Homo sapiens: one gene and its partner. The protein of the gene in region 1 purifies or fractionates together with the protein of each later gene. This does not show direct contact. Each region holds a gene or a part of one and is shown on either strand. Other genes may lie near its edges.

What was found.
Region 2: the proteins of CIROZ (region 1) and PADI3 purify together in Homo sapiens (affinity purification with mass spectrometry; one large-scale study listed by BioGRID and IntAct). This does not show direct contact.

What each region holds. Positions count from the first base shown.
Region 1 is NC_000001.11:10,978,475-10,983,894, reverse strand, and holds the start of CIROZ (ciliated left-right organizer ZP-N domains-containing protein isoform 1 precursor), read left to right. Parts: upstream 1-1,818; 5' UTR 1,819-1,857; coding exon 1,858-1,883; intron 1,884-5,420. UniProt on the Homo sapiens protein: Plays a role in left-right patterning process.
Region 2 is NC_000001.11:17,265,542-17,270,509, reverse strand, and holds part of PADI3 (protein-arginine deiminase type-3), read right to left. Parts: intron 4,852-4,968; coding exon 4,790-4,851; intron 4,444-4,789; exon of another isoform or gene 4,214-4,443; intron 3,792-4,213; coding exon 3,674-3,791; intron 2,674-3,673; coding exon 2,548-2,673; intron 278-2,547; coding exon 99-277; intron 1-98. UniProt on the Homo sapiens protein: Catalyzes the deimination of arginine residues of proteins.

The DNA of each region.
Region 1 (5,420 bases):
CTCAGGTGATCTGCCAACCTCAGCCTCCTAAAATGTTGGGATTACAGGCTCTCTTTCTCTCTCTCCCTCTCTGTCTCTCTTCCTGAGATACAATCTTGCTCTGTTGCCCAGGCTGGAGTGAGCCACTGTGCCTGGCTTCCTCGACTTTCAATAATGGCAAGTATTTGGGGCGGGGGGAGGAAGGGATAAACACAGATAAAATGGAATAGTTAAAATCAAGACTTTTTTTTTTTTTCACTTGCAAAGGGTATTAGGAACCATCTAGTCCTAAATCCTCATTTTGCAGGGATATTTGTTTGCAAGGGCTGCCACGACAGAGTACCACAGACTTGGGATTTACACACCAATTGATTTCTTCACAGTTCTAGAGGCTAGGAGTCTGAGATCAAGGTGCAGGCAGGGCTGGTTTCTCCGGAGCTGCCTCTCTGGCTCACAGCTGGCCATCTTCTCCCTGTGTCCTCACACCGTCATTCCTCCGTATGTGTCCGTGCCCTAATCTCCTCTTCCTTTTTTTTTTTTTTTTTGAGACGGAGTCTTATTGTATCGCCCAGGCTGGAGTGCAATGGCACGATCTCAGCTGTCTGCAATCTCTGCCTTCCAGGTTCAAGCGATTCTCCTGCCTCAGCCTCCAGAGTAGCTGGGATTACAGGTGCCCACCACCAAGCCCGGCTATTTTTTGTATTTTTGGTAGAGACAGGGTTTCACCATGTTGGCCAGGCTGGTCTCAAACTCCTGACCTGATGATCCACCCACCTCAGCCTCCCAAAGTGCTAGGATTACAGGCGTGAGTCACTGCGCCTGGTCTTTTTTTTTTTTTTTTTTTTTTTTTTTTTTTTTTTTTTTTTTTTTAGACGGAGTTTTGCTCTTGTCACCCAGGCTGCAGTACAATGGTACGATCTTGGCTCACTGCAACCTCCATCTCCCGGGTTCAAGCAATTCTCCTGCCTTAACTTCCCAAGTAGCTGGGATTACAGGCGTGCACCCCCACACCTGGCTAGTTTTGTATTTTTAGTAGAGATAAGGTTTCACCATGTTGGCCAGGCTGGTCTCGAAGTCCTGACATCAGGTGATCAGCCTGCCTCGCCCTCCCAAATCACTGGGATTATGGGCATGAGTGACTGTGCCCGGCCCCTTTTTTTTTTTTTTTTAGACAGGGTCTTGTTCTGTTGCCCAGGCTGGAGTGCAGTAGCACAATCAGGGCTCACTGCAGCCTCAACCTCCTGGGCTCAAGCAATCCTCTCACCTCAGCCTCCTGAGTAGCTAGGACCACAGGTGTGTGCCACCATGCCCAGCTAGTTTTTAAATTTTTTGTAGAGACAGGGTCTTGCCATGTTCCCCTGGCTTGTTTCGAACTCCTGACCTCAAACAATCTGCCCATCTCTGCATCCCAAAATGCTGGGGTTACAGGCATGAGCCACCATGCCTGGCCCCTCAGCTCCTTTTGAACTCTGCCAGGAGGGGCCTGGAGCAGGGTTCTGGGAAGCCCCATCAAGACAGCGTGACTGTTCCTCCGGTGAAGCTCAGTTTCTTAGCTTCTTTCCTTCCTTGGGCACAGAGACAGGCTTCTCCCGGGAGCGGAGAATGAGGGCCTGCACTCCAGCCTCAGTGGATCAATTCATCTTCAGCCTTCTGATCCGCAATCTTATTTTGAGCTCCCACGGCTGAAGCAATTCATCTCACCCATGCAGAGGGATGGGGAGAAGCTGAGAGTGTTGACACCCACCTGTGTTTTCTGGCACCTGAGTGACCCGAGACCTGCACTGGAGGGGAAGGGGAGGAGCCAACCTTTCGTTTAGTTGCTTGGAACTGCTTCAGATTAAATTCTCCCAGGGCAGGAGAGAGCTGCTGGGCCTGAGGATGTGGGGGTCCCCAGCACTTGCCTGGTAAGTGTCCCTTATTCAGGAATTGGGAGAAGCCAGTGGCATGCTTAGTGTGCCCACACTCCTTGAAGAAGCCAAATATCTTCCATCAGAATCAGAAGCCTTGCATCTAAGAGGGAAGGGGGCCAAATGGGTGAGGGGCCCAGATGCATGGATGCCTTGGGAAGGGCTGACTTTCTCAGGTGAGGTCCGGCCACAGTCTCTCCCACCTTTCTCATGCTCCTGTCATCCCTTGTTCTGGAATTCCAGTCCTCCCATCTTGGGAAGGATTTCCAGAAGATTGGGAGAAAACAGAACACGTCTTCCTTGTCCTAGAGGGTCCTTAAAACAAAACAAATTAGGGGTCAAGTTGACCAAGAGATGCTTGATTTCAAGGAGTTTTCAAATGATAGGAGTTGTGGTCGCTAGCTATTCGATTGTAAGGATTAGGAGAAAATTTCATTTTCCTTCCTTCCCTCCCTTCCTTCCTTCCCTCCCTGCCTTCCTTCCTTTCTCCTTCCTTCCTTCCCTTTCCTTTCTTTTCTCTTTCTCTCTCTCTCTCCCTCTCTGTCTCTCCTTCTTCCTGAGATAGAGTCTTGCTCTGTTGCCCAGGCTGGAGTGCAGTGGCAAGATCATAGTTCACTGTCATCTCTTAACTCCTGGGCTCAAGTGATCATCCCACTTTAGCCTCCTGAGTAGCTGGGACCATAGGCATGTGCCACCACACTTTGGTAATTTTTTAATTTTTTTGTAGAGACAGGGTCTTACTGTGTTGCCCAGGCTGGTCTTAAACTCCTGGGTTCAAGCCATCCTCCTGTCTCGGCCTCCCAAAGTATTGGGATTACGGGCATGACTCACTGCACTTGGCCAAAATCTCATTTTCCTTGGCAACAGAATTGCTACCTCTTTTCCCCATCTGAGATGCATTTTTAAGAGATACTTTAAAAAGCTCCTGAGAGTGGGAAGTGAAGCCTCCCAGGCCAGCTGGAATGTCACAATAGCTGGCTTGTGGCCTTTGGGCCGTGGACTGCAGGGCTTTTGTTGGGCGTTTTGTGAGGTTGAAGTCTGTAGACAATGAAGGCAGTGGAGAAGCTGAGTGGGGCTTTGTGGGGCTGGGCGAGCAAGGGGGAGGTCCGGGCCCTGTCCTGGGGACCCATTGCCTTCTCCTGGATGCCCCATGAGGGGGCTCAGCTTTGGGGGATGGAGCATCATGTCTCCCCCCAGACTGGGATGGGGCAGTTCTGGGTCTGAGAAGTGAGGGGGAAAAACCCAAACCCACATCTTTCTCCCGATTGATGCTCAAGGAGGAGAACAGGAGCAGGCATCAGACGGAGGGGAGAGCTGTCTACCCCCCACCTGCCACCGGGCCGATTCCAGACAGCATTCCCTGTGTAACAGCAGAGTCGGGGTCCCTGGCAAGGCCGGGACTCAGCACCAGAGTCAGCCACTTTCCTTTTCCCCAAGATTATTCTTCTGGTCCTGTCTCAGATTTACTCGCTCTGGGAGAACCTTCCTTCAAGACCAATTGCCCCAGCCAGGTTTTTGTTTTGCAAATTAATCAACTAATAATAGCGCCTCCCCGCTGCTGGGAGAGGAATTCCGCATTGGGCTCAGTGTCCAGGCAGCAGAGCCCAGGGCGGGTACCCGGCCGTCCATGGGAGAGGCTCGCCACAGGCGCTTCTGAATTCAGCGAATGAAGCGGGGCAGCGGGGCAGCCAGGCAGCCGCAAGCTCCTCCCAGCTCAAAGGCTGCAGGCTCAGCTTAGATTCCAGGCTGGGGAACCAGTCCTGTCATTCTTTGCCAACCCACTCTGGGGAGACTGTGGGCCCTGGCATTTGGCCTCCCTGGGCTGGGCCTGAGGCCCTGGCCCTCTGCCCACCCAGGAATCGAATGGCTCAACGAGGGCAGCCCTAGAAGGAAATGCAGCACCCATTCCTGCCTTTTCACATTGCTTTTTAAACTGTTAACTTTCTTTCTTTCTTTTTTTTGAGACGGAGTTTTGCTCTTGTTGCCCAGGCTGGAGCGCAATGGTGAGATCTCGGCTCACCACAACCTCCACCTCCCAGGTTCAAGCGATTTTCCTGCCTCAGCCTCCTGAGTAGCTGGGATTACAGGCATGCGCCACCGCACCTGGCTAATTTCGTATTTTTAGTAGAGATAGGGTTTCACCATGTTGGCTAGGCTGCTCTCAAACCCCTGACCTCAAGTGATCCGCCCGCCTCCGCTTCCCAAAGTGCTGGGATTACAGGCGTGAGCCACTGCACCCGTCCAATAGTAGTTTCTTTCTTTTCATTGCAGTTCAGTATTCCATTGTAGGAGTAGACCACAATGGGTCCATTCTACCACTGCTGGGCGCTGGGGTGGTTTCCAGGTTACAGGAAATAATAGCACTGCTGTCAACAGTCTTGCACGTGTCCTCTGATGCCCTTGTGCTTGCCTTGCAGTTGGAGAGGAAGCGCTGGGTCGAAGGGTGGAGGAATGTTCAGTCTTAGTAGATTCTACCAGTTCCCAAGAGTGGTTGAACCAACCTCACTCCCGCCAGGAGGCAGGAGCTTTCTCAATGCTCCACATTCTGCCAATCTCTCCCTGTCATTCTTTCTTTCCAGCTTCTGGCTTCAGGATTATTTCCTGAACTCCTCTAAGGAAAGCTTCTTTGTGGGAAGTTTAGGTTCTTGCCTGCAGTCATTTTAAATAGTTGGAGTCTCAGCTGCCCGAAGAGTCTTTTAAAATGTGAGATCCTTGCCCTGGGTGCGGTGGCCCACACCTGTAATCCCAGCATTTTGAGAGGCTGAGGTGGGCGAATAACTTGAAGCCAGGAGCTCAAGACCAGCCATGGCCAACATGGTGAAACCCCCGACTCTACTAAAAATACAAAAATTAGCCAGGCGTGGTGGCACACGCCTGTAATCCTAGCTACTCAGGAGGCTGAGGCACGAGAATCACTTAAATCTGAGAAGCAGAGATTGCAGTGAGCCGAGACTGTGCCACTGCACTCCAGCCTGGGTGACAGAGTGAGATACTCAGTCTCAAAAAAGAAAAAAAAAGTGAGATCCTCTTCCTTCCCTGCTTAGAGTTCTCCAGGGCTTCCCACAATTTTTTATGGTAAAACCCCAGCCTGCACCCCTGGCCATGGCTCCTGCCTGCCCCTCTCCTTTTTGCCCACCAGCGGCCCCTCTGTCACTGGCTCTAGTTCCACTGACCTTCTTTTGAGTCCTTAAACACAAACACACCAAACTCATTTCCGACTGTTTGCTGTGCACTGACTATTTCCTCTGCTGAGGAATGCCCTTCCCCAGGTCTTTGCATGGGACTCTTTCTTTTTTTTTGAGACAGGGTCTCGCTTTGTTACCCAGGCTGGAGTGCAGTGGGACAATCATTGCTCATTGCAACCTAGACCTCCCAGGCTCAAGCAATCCTCCCACCTCAGCCTCCTGAGTAGCTGGGACCACAAGCGCATGCCACCACACCAGGTTAATTTTAAAATCTTTTTGTAGACATCGAGTCTTGCTATTTTGCCCAGGCTGGTCTCAAACTCCTGGGCTCAAGTGATCCTCCTGCCTC
Region 2 (4,968 bases), 6.3 Mb from region 1:
TACCTCGCTATTTTTTTTTTTTTTGTAGAGATGGGGTTTCACCATGTTGCCCAGGCTGGTCCCGAGTGGAGCTCCTCTTGAACCCCCTCTGTCCCTACCTCGTTGGAGTCGTCCAGCAGAGTGACATGGAAGGAGATGAGTCCTGTGAAGCCGGCATCAGGGAAGGACAGGCCTTCCACGAAGAAGCGCTCCTCATCCCCATGCAAGCGGGGTACCTCATAGGACACCTTATCTTGGCCCAGCACATGCCTATAGGCCTCACACACATCCTCAGGACCTGGAAGGGGAGGGACGGGGTGGCTGTGACTCCCTGTGGGCCCAGGGAGCATGAGTATGAGGGACACAGGAAGAGGTCTGCAGCCTCACCAAAAATTCCAAGTCCTCCAACAACTCCCTCCTTTCACCTCCACTGGCAAAGGAGAGGACAGGTAATACACAGTGGGGGCCACGGCTGGGGGAAAGGGTCTTCCTTTCTAAGACTGGCGCTCATACCTTTTTGGAGCACAATTTGGCAGCATCCAACAAAGTAATGTTTACCCCAAGCCCAGCAATTCCACTGCTAGGTATCTTTCCTACAAAAATACATCTACAGGCTGGGCACGGTGGCTCATGTCTGTAATCACAGCACTTTGGGAGACCGAAGGCGGTGGATCACCTGAAGTTAGGAGTTCAAGACCAGCCTGGCTAACATAGTGAAACCCTGTCTCTACTAAAAATACAAAAATTAGCCGGGCGGTGGTGGTGCACACCTATAATCCCAGCTACTCAGGAGGCTTAGGCAGGAGGATTGCTTGAACCCAGGAGGCGGAGGTTGCAGTGAGCCAAGATCACACCACTGCACTCCAGCCTGGGCATGGAGCGAGAATCCATCTCAAAAAAAACCAAAACCAACAAAAAACAAAACAACAACAACAAACAAACAATAATAGGTACAAAGTCACATAATATTTCTGTACAAGAGTGCTCGATATTCATTAATTCATCAAATATTTACTGTGCAACTACAGTGCACCCATGGGGCACGGTTCTGGACTTGAACAAAGCCCCTGACCTCAAGCAACCTGCATTGTTATAAAATCAAAACACTGCAAACCACTATGATGTTCAGAGAACTGTGTAAGTCACAGCACCTCTATGCTTAGGAATATTATACAGCAGTGGAAAAGAATGAAGTAGAGCTCAATAAATACCAGAAAAGGTGTGTGGGATTATTACTTAATGAAAGAAGCCGGTTGGAAAGCAGCATATGGACACACGCTGGAGAACATGTAGAATAAAGTTGGGAAGCACACATCCCAACTCGTTAACAGTGACAATCAGATTCAGGCCAGGTGCGGCGTCTCACGCCTATAATCCTAGTACTTTGAGAGGCCAAAGCGGGTGGATTGCTTGAGCCCAGGAGTTCACGACCAGCCTGGGCAGCATGGTGAAACCCTGTCTTTACAAAAAAAAAAAAATTAGCAGGGTGTGGTGGTACATGCCTGTAGTCCCAGCTACTCGTGAGGCTAAGGTGGAAGGATTGCTTGAGCCTGAAAGGTGGAGGCTGCAGTGAGCTGAGATCATGCCACTGCACTCCAGCCCGGGCAACAGAGCAAGACCTTGACTCAAAAAAAAAAAAAAAAAGTCAGATTTAGAGACGGGTAGAGAACTCTCAGGTTTCATTTTCTATACTTCCATATTGTCTGATTATTTAAAAAATAAGCGGCCAGGCACGGTGGCTCACGCCTATAATCCCAGCACTTTGGGAGGCCGAGGCGGGCAGATCACAAGGTCAGGAGATTGAGACCATCCTGGCTAAGACAATGAAACCCTGTCTCTACTAAAAATACAAAAAATTAGCTGGGTGTGGTGGCACATGCCTGCAGTCACAGCTACTTGGGAGGCTGAGGCAGGAGAATCGCCAGAACCCAGGAGGTGGAGGTTGCAGTGACCCGAGGTCACGCCACTGTACTCCAGCCTGAGCAACAGAGCGAGACTCTGTCTCAAAAAAAAAAAAAAAAAAAAAAAAAAAGCATCTTATTACTTGTATACATTTTTAGTTTCTCAAAGGCATTTAGATTTTTACTTGTATTTCTTGTGATTTTGGCAGACTATGTAAAACAACAGCCATCTATATTTGGGGGGAATACAAACTGAATTAATTGGGTGAAATCTATGGTGTTTGGGGTTGGTTTTACAAAACTTCAGCGAGACAGACAAAACAGTGATAATTGTTTAATCTGAGTGACAGGCACATGGGGATTCACAGCACTGCTTTTTGTGTATGTTTGAAATTTTTGATAAGAATTTCTACACATGCTTAAAATGTATTTGAAAAGGTCATTCATCAAATAAAATGACCTCAGGCCAGGTGTTGTGCTGGGGGCACCAGTTCATCAGTTCCAAAGCCCCCACTTCTGACTGTTCTTACTGCGACCCGCCACCCACCAGGGCATCTCCCGGAGTGTAAGCAGGACCTGCCCATGGCCCAAGGCAGGAACAGGAGGTTCCCTGGTAGGCAACCTGGCAACAGGGCACAGATGGCAAGGGGCAGTGGCACAAACTCACCGCAGATGTGGAAGACCTGTGCCCGTTTGGCATCATAGCTGGAGGTATGGAGGACAAGTTTGTGGTCATCAAAGAGGGCTGCAGGGCCCTGCGTCCGCAGGACCATGACAGACATGTCTTCCAGGTCTGTGAAGCCAGACAGAGTGGTAGTGACTCAAGGGAGTCCTGGCCCCTGGCCCCTTCCTCTGCTGCCCAGCTCCCTCCCCAGGTCAGTGGGTATCAAGACCTGGGTCTCCCAGCCCTAGCTTTGTGAAAACCCTGGAAGCCATCAAGAACAAACCATGAAGACATCTATGCTCTCCTGGACTCATGTTTCCTCAATTGCCCAGAGAAACATGAAGTGTGGCATAGCCAGCTGGTGTCTGACACACAACAGGTGCTCCAGAGAAGCAAGGAGGGTAAGGCCATGTGGGCGTCGTGCAGGTAAGGGTTCTGGCCTCCATCCCAGCATCACTCCCTGTGACCCTGGACAAGCCCCTCCCTTCTGGAGCCCCAGCATCCCCATGTCCAATGGTGCCCACTTCAGAAGGCAACCGTGGGCATCTCCCGTGGACAGCACCTAGCATACCCTGGAATATTGCAGCTCATTCTCCATGGGGCTGGAATTCAGGACAGATGGACTTAGCAAGAGGTGGGGGAGTCACAGAAATGTAGGCCAGAGGTGCTGAAGGAGGAGGCCCAGATTTGGGGTTGAGAGGGGAGGCCCCAGATCAGACACAGTCTTCAGGGAGTCTCCTGGCTTCTGAGTCTCAGCATCCTCATCTCTAAATTGGGGTGATGATATTGTCCCACTTGGATGATTCAATGAGAATTTGGGGAAAAGGCCTGGCACACAGTAGGTGCTCAAATAATGCTAGCATCCTCTGCTCCCCTGGAGGAAGAGAATGGCGAGGTGGCTCATTTCCAGAGCTTCTGCCCTGGCATGTGAGTGCTCACTGGCCCTAGAGACACTAGGGAGGGGCAGCTGCCAGCCTGAGATGGGTTTTGAGGAGCATCGAGGTGTGTCTGGAGGCTGGCGCTCTCCCCTGGACTCTGGCCTCAGAGTCTCGCCTGTGGGTTGGAACTCCCATGGGGTAACTGAGCAGTGACCCTGGACACCCAGGGACTCAGGCTGCCCCGGCCTCACCTTGCAGGCAGTGCACGTGCTGGTCACAATTGTCCTGGACATCACAGCTCGGATCATCACGGTCACAGTTCACCAGCAAGATGCCGCCATACCCACTGGGCCCCCAGACCCACTGCCGCTGCCAATGACAAAACATAGCCAGTGATGAGGGCTCAGATGAGACCTGTGCCTCCCTACCCAGGAACCCGAGCCTGGCCTGTAACCACCCAACCCTGTGAGGCTAGGTCCACGTTCTCGAAGCACCTCCTTCTCAAGACATGTCAATGGCAATGGCTCTCTGTTGCCCACACCATCCAGTCCAAAGCACAGAGCTGTCTTTCATGGCTATCTGTGATGGGCCTTCAGCCAACATCCTCTTTCTCAATAGGCAACCTGATTATAGGACCACACGCCTCACTCTGTGCTCATTCCTCCATTAAACCCTCCTTGGTTTTGCTCCTGCCATTCCCTGCACCTGGAACGTCCTCCCTCCTGCACCCCTTCAGAGCTCAGCTCAAGGGTACGTCCCTCCAGGAAGCCTTCCTCACCCACCCAGCCCACCTCGACCTTCTCCTCTTAACTCCCAGGGCACCAAGTTCCAACATAATTCAGTCCCAAGTTCTTCAACAGTTTCATATTTGGTTTCTCTTCTCGCCTAGGTCAGGATCAGCACATTATGAACTGTGGGCCAAATCTGGCCTACTGCCTGTTTGTATAAATAAAGTTTTATTAGCACACAGTCACATCCATCCATTTCTGTATTAACTGTGGCTGCTTTCACACTATAGTGGCAGAATTGAGACCATATGTCCCACAAAGCCTAAAATACTTGCTATGTGACTTTTCACGGAAAAAGTTTGCCCACTCCTGACCTAGTTTATGAGTCCAGAAGGTCTTGATCCCACAAACCAAGGCCTAGCTCAGGGCTGGGTACCTCCATGCCTGATAATTCCTGGCGATGATTTTTCTCCTGGTGAAAGAAGATCCCCAGCCATGCCTGGTTTCTGTTTTTGGCCCTTGGTCTCGGCATCAGCTGGGAGGCAGGGGGATATCTGTAATGGCCTCATCCTTCTTAACCCAACCTAGAGCAAGCTCCAACTGCACTCCTGCTTCCTGGGCCCAGGCAGAGATGCTTACCTTGTCTACAAAGTTCCTGTCCTGCCTTCCCTCACAGTTCAGGTCGCAATCCAGAGAGATGTCTGCAAGAGGAGGCAGAGGGTAAGTCACTACAAGGTTCCCAGGAGCCCAGGGCAGGCCTTGATCTCAGGGCTTGTCTGGGGCTGAGCAAAGGCAAGTCATTTCTAAGGAGACACCAT